2 separate regions of the Homo sapiens genome follow, and region 1 is linked to region 2. A link means that fine-mapping ties the variant in region 2 to the expression of a gene that starts in the linked region. Tissue or cell type: lung. Region 2 holds a variant in brackets; the other region holds the start of a gene. All regions are shown on one strand. Distances are between the middles of the regions.

Evidence for each region. PIP is the estimated chance that this variant, and not a neighbour inherited with it, causes the effect.
Region 1: it holds the start of PDE5A, and the variant in region 2 is fine-mapped to the expression of PDE5A in lung (TOPMed, PIP above 0.99).

What each region holds. Positions count from the first base shown.
Region 1 is chr4:119,626,304-119,631,610 of GRCh38, forward strand. PDE5A (phosphodiesterase 5A) reads right to left here and starts at 2,501. Exons shown (of 21, transcript NM_001083.4): 1 at 2,217-2,501. The coding sequence starts at 2,368. It overlaps LOC107986192 (a long non-coding RNA gene), which reads left to right and starts at 1,487. Exons shown (of 1, transcript NR_165235.1): 1 at 1,487-4,452. RefSeq lists silencers at 935-1,214, 2,435-2,834 and an enhancer at 1,345-1,394.
Region 2 is chr4:119,649,166-119,654,545 of GRCh38, forward strand. No RefSeq gene overlaps it. Among named protein-coding and RNA genes, the nearest start is that of PDE5A, 23 kb to the left of the region's middle. The variant G/C (reference allele first, on the strand shown) is at 2,161.

The DNA of each region.
Region 1 (5,307 bases), 23 kb before region 2:
AAAATGTTGCTACACTTTCAAAGTGTTGGTAGGTTCTGAAAATGCAGTGTTCCTATCTATGACTAGTCAAAAACGACCAACAAGCCATCCCTAGTTTACATCTTTAAAAGAAAAATAGGGAACGAAGAAAGGACATTTATGCTGATTTATTAAACAATAACTTTTTTTCTTTAAACTGTTTATAATCTGCCTAAAGAACAGGTCCAATACATACTTTTAAAAATCGGCCTGGTTCTCTGGCCCCCTGATCATTCTATGCGCTGTAATTCAAGGAGAGCAGAAGGCTGGGAATGCGCAGAGTGAAAGGAAAGTGGGTGCAGATGGCCTCAGAGGGGCAGGTGACCCCTGAAAACTGTTAGTCGACAGCAACCGATCATTCTAGACCTCCATGGCCTTAGTGTCTCACGCTAAACTCGCAAAAAAGTGCCCTTTCAGGGCTATCCTCTGGGCGCTCAAGATTTAGGATTTTGAAGGAAGAAGGTGAAAGCGGGGGAAGACGATTTTAAAAGAAGGGCTGGGTTATTAAATTGAAAAGATTAATCCCGGAGCCTTCCCCTCTGTCAAAAAACCCTGAAAGTGACTAAATTGACACCAACTCTGGATGTTCCTTAGGAAAAAAACAAAACAAAACAAAACAAAACAAGATTAAAAAGGGCCCAATTTAAGACCCTTATTAATACATCTGCAAGAGAGCAAAGAATAACAACAACAACAAAAGTTATACAGTCAATTTTCAATGATACATCGTCCCACTGGTGCCACCGGGGCGCCACCACCCAGCACCCGAGACCCGCCGCGCCCCCGGAAAAAGTGGGAAGGGACGTAGGGGGATGCTGAAGGAAGTACCTTGTTTTGTCTCCAAAGGGCAACATAGCAAACGTGGGAAGTTCGTTTTCGAACTCCGCCGATCCTGGACTCCAGGAGGCTCCGTAGGGGCAACAACGCGCGCAGGTGAGGTGAGGTGAGGTCGGCGACTCAGAACCAGCTCCCTCACGGCCCCGGCCTCCGCGCCGCCGCCCGTCGCCTCCCGCTCGCCCCGCGCTGCGCCGCCCCCTGGCGGGGAGCGACCGGCAGAGCCGCGGCCGCGCGCCGGCGAGTGGGACCCGGGCGTCGAACCCGGGCGGGCTCCTCGACCATCACTGCCGGGCGTGTGTCACCCTCCCGGCCAAGACGGCCAGCACCCGCTGCCCGACGGCCGCTGCCCAGAGCAGGCGGCAGCGGGGCACGGACTCTTTCTGCAAAGGGGCGCGTCCTGGAGTCCACGCACCCCGACTATGCATCAATTCCTCAGGCTTCGGGGCACCCGCCCGCCAAGCACTCTCTGCTCCACTCTTCTTGTCCCTCTGCTCCCAGTCTCAATTCCTCCCCAACTCTCCCGCGAGCGTTTCCCACGAGCGCCCCGACTGCCCGCTGCGCAGCCGCCTCCAAAAGGACAGGCTCCCTCCTCCCCGCCCTCCGCAAGGGCCGCCCCGGCGCTTGGCTCTGGACCAGAAAGAGCTGGCCTCTGGGGTCTGCGCTGCCCCTTGGGGTCCGCTCCAGGCGGCGCCTCCCCTGCGCCCTTTGTGTGCACGCCGCAAACCCCTCTGCAGAGCTCTACTTTTGGCGGCACAGCCTTCGGCGGAAAAGCGAGTGAAAGGAGGCGCGCGGGACAAGCAGGAGACTGGAAGGGGGGAAAAGGCAACCGCACTCACTTTGGCAAGGTTCCGTCATGTTGCCTTTGGGCTGTCCCGTGGACTCGTCCCTCACCCCAGCTTCCCCGCCCAGCCAGGGCCAGGGCGAGGGGGGACGGGGGAGGAGCGGAGCCATCAAGACCGACTTGGAAATGGTGCTTCCGGAGCTGCAGGGAAGGGGCTCAGAAACTGTTTGGGTTTTGCTGATTGGATTTTGGGGAACCAGAGGGCTAGAGAGGGGCTAGGGGAAGGCCCGTGAGCACGGATGTATGAAAATAATCATGTTCCCGGGGAATACCAAGAGGGTCGGGGGTGAGGGTGGGAGGTCGGCAAGTACATTTTTGTATTTGAACTTTGTGAGCAAGTTGTATCAAATCCGACACTTGAGTTTTTCGACTGTGCTCGCTTAGAGTTGAGGTTTCTACCTCGTAACAGGACCGAGGACCTACTTCAAAAGCAAAGGGCCTGGGAACAGGGGTGAACGAAGGGCACAATTCAACAGGGGAGAGAAATCAGCCCCGGGTCTTCCGTGGGTCCTCTTCTTACCTGGTGGCTTTTCTAACAAAGTATGAGAAGGTAAAGTCCCAGTGATCGTCCAGCCATGCTTCGACCGAGTCCTGATCCCTCTGCTGCTGCTTCTGCTGCTGGGGCTGCTGCTGCTGTCGCTGCTGCCCGAAGCTGGGGCCGGCCCGCTCCATGGTTGGCACCGCGCGCCTCGGAGGCTCTCTGGTACTGCTTTTCCACCCCAGCTGGGGTCCGTCCCTCAGAAGAACAGGACTCGGCCTCGAGACCCTCCCCCTTCGTCCTGCTCCAGTCGGGCCGGCTTTCGACAAAGCGGCCGGAGCGCCAGGCCAGCCTCCTGCCCCGCCCCGCCCCGCGCGGTTCTACGGGCGCCCAGGTGTGGTGGGCGGGGCCAGGCGCAGCTGCTGCGCCCCCCCCACCCGGGGTCCGGCAGTGTTCCGCTCTCGCAGGCTCTTCAGTCCCCTGGTTCCCAGGAGGCGGCGGCGGCGGCGGCAGCGGCAGCGCCCGGCGAGCTCTCCGGAAGCCAAGTGGCGGCGGCTGGAAGGAGGCCGCGCGGCCGCTGGGGTGCGCTGTGTGCCAAGCCGACTTCTGGGGAGCGCGCTAGGTGACTGGGTGTGTTCTCAGAGTGCCCCAGGGAGGGAAGGTCGCGATGTGGGAAGTTTTGCCCGAAAGTAAGAGATGATGAGACCCTGGGCCCTTTTCCTGGGGCCTGGGAGTGCAATGACCTTCCCGCCTAGCTTTTCCCTAGCCCTACGCTTGGGTCTGGGAGGAGCGGGACCGACCTCCTTCAGAGCCCAGCCCGCTCAGTGACTTAAAGCGGTCCAGCCACGGACCACTGCGGGTGGAGAGAGCTGGGGCGTGTGCTAGCAAGAGAGATTTGCAGGTGTAGGTGGGTAACTTGCAACAAAGCCATACCCGTGCTTAATGTTAATGATAACAGCAATAATTATAACTTAAGTGCCTTTAACCATTGCCTCAAACTTCCCTTATGCATAACTGGAAAAAGATTTACTTGGAAAAGAAAAAGCAAACAAATAATTTCCAATGCTTTGTGCATGAAGTTAGAAAACAAGGGCACCTCTGTACAATTAGGTTAATCCGAGAGCACTGGCGCAACCCAGGTGCAGTCGAGGGCAACCAGTTATCCCAATTTTAAATTAATGCATCATTTTAATTAAATTGGAATTAACACTCCCTCAAAAGTATCCATTAAAAATGGCTCAGCCTTTTTGTCCAATCCCTATCTTGCTTCTTTAAAAAAGGAATTGGTGTCATCCTTTGCTTTGTCTGCATCCCCATCTTCCTGTCATGCATTGGCAGTTTTAATATGGCATTTTGCAATGACCTATATTTTTTGGTAGAATTAAATCTGGAATTATGGGTTGCACAATGTGTGAATGACACCATTAGCAGTGATATAAAAAAAAATGAGTTAGCTGATATACTTCTGACAACTTCCTTCTAAATACTCTTGGCAAGAATTTAAGGCATTATTCACTACATAGAAACACATCATTAAATTGATAATCTGAGAACTTTTAAAAGTATCTTCTAGTCCCCCAATGCAATGGTTTATCTTTCCTTCATTGAGTAATTGACCTTTTGCGACTTCAGTTTTTCTGAAACTTTACTGCTGTATGCAGGTAGCCACAACCAAAGAAAAGCAATCAAAGCAGTAGAGTATGAACTAATGGGTGATAAATTATATTGGATTTAGAAATGAGAATTCTCTCCTAATGTGTTACTATGATAGTGATTATAGTGCTCATGGAATACAGTCATGCGTCACCGAACAACAGGATACATTCTGAGAAATGTATCCTTAGGCAATTTCATCCTTCTCTGAACATCACAGTGTACTAACACAAAATAGATGGCTCAGCCTACTACACACTTAGGCTATTGCTCCTAGACCACAAATCTATACAGCATATTACTGTACTGAATACTGTAGGCAATTGTAATGCAATGATATTTGTGTGTCTAAACATATCTAAACATAGAAAAGGTACAGTAAAAATATAGTATTATCTTATGGGACTCATATATGTGGTCTGTCGTTGACTGAAAAGTGGCACATTACTGTGGAAAGTTTCTCCTCAGTACAGTTTTTTCTTGTGGAAATCCATGCATTCCTCCTAACAGGAGATCAATCGTAATTTAAAACTCTGCTTATCTACTAAAGATGCAGTGAATTTGGGGCTTGAATTATTTGCTTTTGTTGGATACTTGATTAAATAAACACGTATAATCATTTCAATGTTTGTATTCCCTCCAAAATTCATGTTGAAACTTAATCCCTAATTCAACAGTATTAAGAGGAGGTGCCTTTAAGTGGTGATTAGACCATTAGGGCTCTGCCTTTGTGAATGCATTAGTGCCTTTTTAAAAAAAGGCCCAAAGGAGACAGTTGGCCCCTTCTATTCTTTCCACTATGTGAAGACACAGCACTGACCCTTGCTGAGGATGCAGCAACAAGGTGCCATTTTGTAAGCAAAGAGCAGCCCTCACCAGTTGCCAAATCTGCTGGCACTTTGATTTTGGAGTTTCCAGCCTCCAGAACTGAGAGAAATTAATTTCTATTGTTTATAAATATCCCAGTCTGTGATATTTTATTACAGCAACACAAATGGACTAAGACAGTGGGTAATATCAAAATGTTCATTTTTCTCTCCTAACCTGAAAGGGTTAAATTATCAGAAACCAGGAAGGTTTCTGAAAAATTGCTTCAAGAAAAACAATCTATAGGCTGGGCACAGTGGCTCATTCCTGTAATCTCAGAACTTTGGGAGGGAGAGGTAGAAGGATACTTGAGCTCAGGAGTTTGAACCAGCCTGGGCCACATGGCATGACCCCATCTCTACACAAAATTTTTAAAAATTAGCCAGGCATGGGGGAACACACCTGTAATCCTAGTTATTCGAGAGGCTGAGGCAAGAGGATTGAGCCCAGGAGGTCAAGGCTGCAGTGAGCCATGATCGTGCCATTGCACTTCAGCCTCAGTGACAGTGTAAGACCCCCGGCTCTATAACAAAAAAGAAAAAAAAAGAAAAACAGTACATAGATTCTCTCAATAGTGAATCTCAAGTCTGTGTGGTATATATGATAGTTTGGG
Region 2 (5,380 bases):
AAAACATCATGTTGTATATGATAAATATATGGAATTTTTGTCAATAAAAAATAATAAATAAATATAAAGTCAGCGAAACCTTTGAGATAGGCATGTTGCTCGGTACAACTCGTGGTAGTATGTCTTTGGTGCCCAACTGAAATAGTTTAACCTACTTAGCAGTTTGTCCTTCAAAGGTAGACAGGCTTGAACCCAATCAGAGACCTGTAAGGGATGGTCTGATTCCTGGGTTTCAGAAGACCAAGCAATAAGTAGGAGAGGCCCAGGATAGACCATGGAAAGGGCACATTTTGAATTTTATATTCTAATCATGCCTTTGATCATAGTTTCCTCTAATTATATGTTATTTAGTAACCTACTGGATACAAAAACTGCAGTTTTGATACATTCGATACATTTTCTCCCTCTGCCATGTGGCTAAGAAAGTGCAAATCAGGATGCTGGTTAATGTGAAATTTAAAGGAAATGCCCATTGAGACATATCTTTGAATTCTGCTTCTTCCCACTATGCCTAGGGTGAAAACAGAAGGTCTCCCTGAAGTAATCTTTGCTGTGAAAAGAATTATTTGAGTGGTGTGGTTGACAGAATAGTGGGCCCCTAAAGATGTCTACATCCCAGTCCCCAGGACCTGTTACCTTACGTAGTAAAAGACACTTTGCAGATGTGATTAAGGTAAGCATTTTGAGATGAGGACATTATCCTGTATTAGCCAGATTATCCTAAAATATCACAAGCATTCTTATAAGATGGAGATAGGAGGGCTAAATTTAGGAGAAGGTGATGTAATTTAGAAATGGAGATTGGACGTAGTGGTGGTTGGATATAGAATGGAAGACCATGTAACAATTGAATATGGCCGTGATCCAAGGATTTCCAGAAACCTCTGAAAGTTGGAAGAGGCAAAGAATTGAGCCTTCTTTAAAGGAATCAGACCGGCAGACACATTAATTTTAGCCCTGTAAGACTCAATTCTGACCTCTGATCTCCAGAACTGTAAGAGAGTAAGTTTGTATTGTTTTAAGCCAATACATTGCTGCTAATTTGTCACAGTAGCCATGTGAAACCACTAAGAGTGGTTTCCCTAGTTATGTGAATATAGGATGAGGAGGCATTCCATATTGTTATTCTTTAGAAACCCTGATGTGTAGTTTGCATGAGGAGCCCAGGAGCTCAGTGAGATGGGGACCAAGACATGTGTCCAGAAATTTGGAGTTAGAGGGACCTGTCAGGGAAGACTAGGATGATTCTGACCAACACGTGGCAACAAAAAAGGACAATAGCATGCCTAGGTACAAAGTTTTCTTTTTGTTTGTTTGTTTGTTTTTTTAAGAAAGTGGATGGCCTTGGACAATCCAGGCTAAACTTAAGATTCCAGGTGTTGTTATGGGGAAGGACTGGTGTGACATAGCTTGTTATTTAAGCAAGAAGCCTCTCGGCCTCCAGCGGCCCAGATGTAGTATCAAGTTTTTGGGGAATAATGACTGAACAAGACATTGTGAACAAAGAGAACTCCAGGAATCCAAGTGAGAGGAATCCCTGAAGCCAGAGCAGAGGCTTGGACCAGCCCAGAAAGGGTCTGAGGAACTGACAAGACCAAGTTTCAACAGTGACACGTGGCAATGAAAAACTGGTGATAGTAGGCTGACTGGACCTCACTTCCCTTTCCCCCTGGTCTCTGGGCAAGGATTGACCAATTCAGGATTGAACGATCCCTGAAGGTTCTCTGTAAATGGGAAAAGAAGGTCAGGGTAAGGGAAAAGATGGGGTAGAGTTTAAGAGGGTATGCTGGGCTATCTATTAAAAAGATTTTTTTGATTGAATGATTAGGATAAAATAAGAAATATGTACAATTGTTTCATTCTCTGAGTTTTTGGAGCAGGTCATACTAGCTACAGACAACATTTGTTTAGTGTCAGAAAATTTACAAAGAGATTTCTAGCCTATGCTTTTGGTACTTTTGGAAATTTAAACTAGACTATACCAGTCTCCATATTCTTTACTCTTGCCGTTAATAAACACACACACTCACACACACACACACACACACACACACACACACAGTAATTACAGTAATTCTGTAATACAGTACTATGAAATTAAAGGACTTGCATTTATATGCCTCCTACCCTTAGAATGTTAACTTCTTTAATTGGGAGTCT[G/C]CATCAATAGGCATTTCCCAAAAGTTGCTTATCTTTTATTGAGGGAACACTTTTTATTTTTTATTTATTTATTTTTTTTGTGACAGAGTCTTGCTCTGTCACCCAGGGTGGAGTGCAGTGGTGCAATCTTGGCTCACTGCAACCTCTGCCTCCCAGGTTCAAATGATTCTCCTTCCTCAGCCTCCTGCATAGCTGGGATTACAGGTATGCGCCACCACACCTGGCTAATTTTTGTATTTTTAGTAGAGACAAGGTTTCACCATGTTGGTTAGGCTGGTCTCTAACTCCTGACCTTGTGATCAGCCCACCTCAGCCTCCCAAAGTGCTGGGATTACAGGCGTGAGCCACCGCACCTGGCCTGTTGAGGGAATACTTTATGTCAGACATGGCCCTAAGATTTTACACACCTCATCTCATTTAAACTTTCCCACATTCAGTAAGGTAGATTTTCTTTCCATTTTATAAATGAGGAAGTAGGTTTACAGAGCTTAAGAATTTCTTCTAGATGTTTATGAGGATGATCTCTAATCATATAATGGGTTGTATAAACATCAATTAAGGTCACACAAATCAAGTGACAAGTGAAGTATGAATACTACTAGTAGGATGCTTAAATGTAGCTAGTCTAGGGACAAAATCAAAATATAATATAAATAGAAGATGTAATGTAACAACAATTTGAATATCTCTTATTTTGCGACAATAAATCACTCATTCCTATTAGCAAGTAGCTCAGCATATCCATCTTAAACTCCACCTCCTCTACCAATTTAACATGAATCATACATGTGTCAAACATGTATAATAGATGTATTTAAAAACGCCCAGTATTATGCATTAAATATAGGAAGTGCTTGTTAAAGTTTGGTTGAATAAAGGTTAGCAAATATATACTTTGAAATGCACAGTAACAAATAGGGGAAACAAATGGAATGTTTGATACCATTTCCAAAGTTACAGACTGATTTAAAAAATAGTTGCTACAGAATGACTGACCTGGTATGTATCCCCTTTCAAAAAAAGTTTAAAAGCACCCCATGAACTTGAAAGATGGAATTGCAAAAAGTCTCCCAACTCTGAGTCATTCTACAGCTACAGAATAAAAATCCTTTATGTATGGAAGAGTATTGCTTTTGATTTTTGGAGGGCTACATTTTACATGTGACCACCAATCACCATTTGACATAGACATTTCTGCTCTCTACTGGCATTCATTATTTTCCTTCATCTAACAATATCCAGGCCTTATGCAGGTATCTTCTACTGTCTCACACCTCACATGGGCCTAAGGAGGACCTGACTTCACTGCTGGATCCAGGGATGACTTTGCTGTATCTAAGGCTAAGTTCATTCCTAGAGCCAGTGATTGGTACAGAAGATGATGTGTGACCCAATTAATAATATTAGGGTGGATTTTCAAAGGATTCTTTGAGAAGCATTCATCATTGTAATGAGAGAGATTCTCAGTGTGACCCTCTTCTTCGAACATTGTCAGGATCCTTCTATAGCTGTTTTGCTACTACCCTGAACATGAAGCTTCTATTAAGAACAGAGAAATGAGCTAGAACCACAGAATAAAATCACCTGCCCTCCTTCTCTTCTTCCAGAAGTAAAATATTTCCAGTCTCTCTTCTAGACGAGAAGCCAATTAATACCTGATTGTTTAGGCTAGTTTGAGTTGGGCTTTCTGTTATTTGTAGGTGAAACTATTCTAACCGATACACCATCCACATTTTATTCTAATCAACAGTTCTGCTGTAAATATAACTCTGGTGTTGAGTCAATACAACACATTAAAAAAAGACAGGCCTGACTCATGGTATCAAAATGGTAGGACTGTCTTGCAAACCCAGAAGTTTATACATAGGGGCCTGCCAAGTCAAATACAGCCCTTCTGAAGACCACATTAGTTTAAAAACTTAGCAATTCAAATATGCCTGTGCATCTGAAGTCATCAAGTTCTAGTTCCCTAACATTGTATATTGTATGTTTTGTGAAATTATATGTATCCTGTGATAGCAGGAAACTCAAGTAATAATTTATTTGGCAAAGAAAAGTGAAGAGTGAAGATGGGTACATAATTTATGTATGAATTCCTGTATAACCTTTGCATATTTTAACACCATATGGAATTACTACAATTTTTTTAAAAAGGCTTAAAAGATTTTAAAAAGCCAACAAATTAAGCCAAGACCACAAATTACTTTTAATGCACTTTTAAAGACCACTGGAATCACAGCCATTAAAATTTATTTCAATTAGGAATGATACTTTTTAAGCTCAAAAACAACATTTGACCCTTAAGTAGATGATGAAAATATACATAATTTAAAAAAGATATTCTGAATTTAAATGATCACAGAGCTATCAATATGGGGTTTCAAATTGAGACTATCTTAAGCAATTAACCTAAAATGCCATGTGCATTTTGTTCAAAGACCTAGCAGGGAAGAGCAATTAGCAATTTGTGAATTATCATTTTATTTATATTTATATTCCAAAAGTAAGCTCATGCCTTGAATATACTATAGAGTATAAAATAGGAACCTAATTTACTTAAAAACTTTAAAAGTTTTTATCTGTTAAATGATTACTTATGGCCTATAATCAAGTTACTATATATATTTTTTAAAGCAATTTTTGGGCCAGGTGCAGTGGCTCAAACCTGTAATCCCAGCTACTCAGGAGGCTGAGGTAGGAGGATTGCTTGGCATTCAAGACCAGCTTGGACAACATAGTGAGATCCCCATCTCTTAAAAAATATATTAAAAGCTTGGTAGGCTAAGGCAGGAGAATCACTTGAGCCCAGGAGTTTAAGCCTGAAGTGAGCTATGATTGGTCACAGCACTCCAGCTTGGGCAACAGAGTGAGACCGCCATCTCAAAAATGAAACAAAAAGCAATTAGTTTTTATGTCTTCTTAAGTTTGCTTATTTTCCATCCCAACTAGTATTCATGGCGTATTTATTTGGAGTAAAGTGGTAAAAACTAATCCCGCTCTTATGAAAGCTAGAATATTGGCTTTTGGAATTCCAGAGAGATTTCGTCTTAATATTTTGCATTTACTAAAATAAACAATAAATTTATCTTTTAAATAATTCAATAAAAAGTAGGACATCCAATCTGTTGGTCAGAATTTTTTCACTGTGTTGTCCCTGATGAATCTTATAGCAACTGTTTTCCAACTCATCCTTGAACTCATAGTTCATTATGTTAAACAT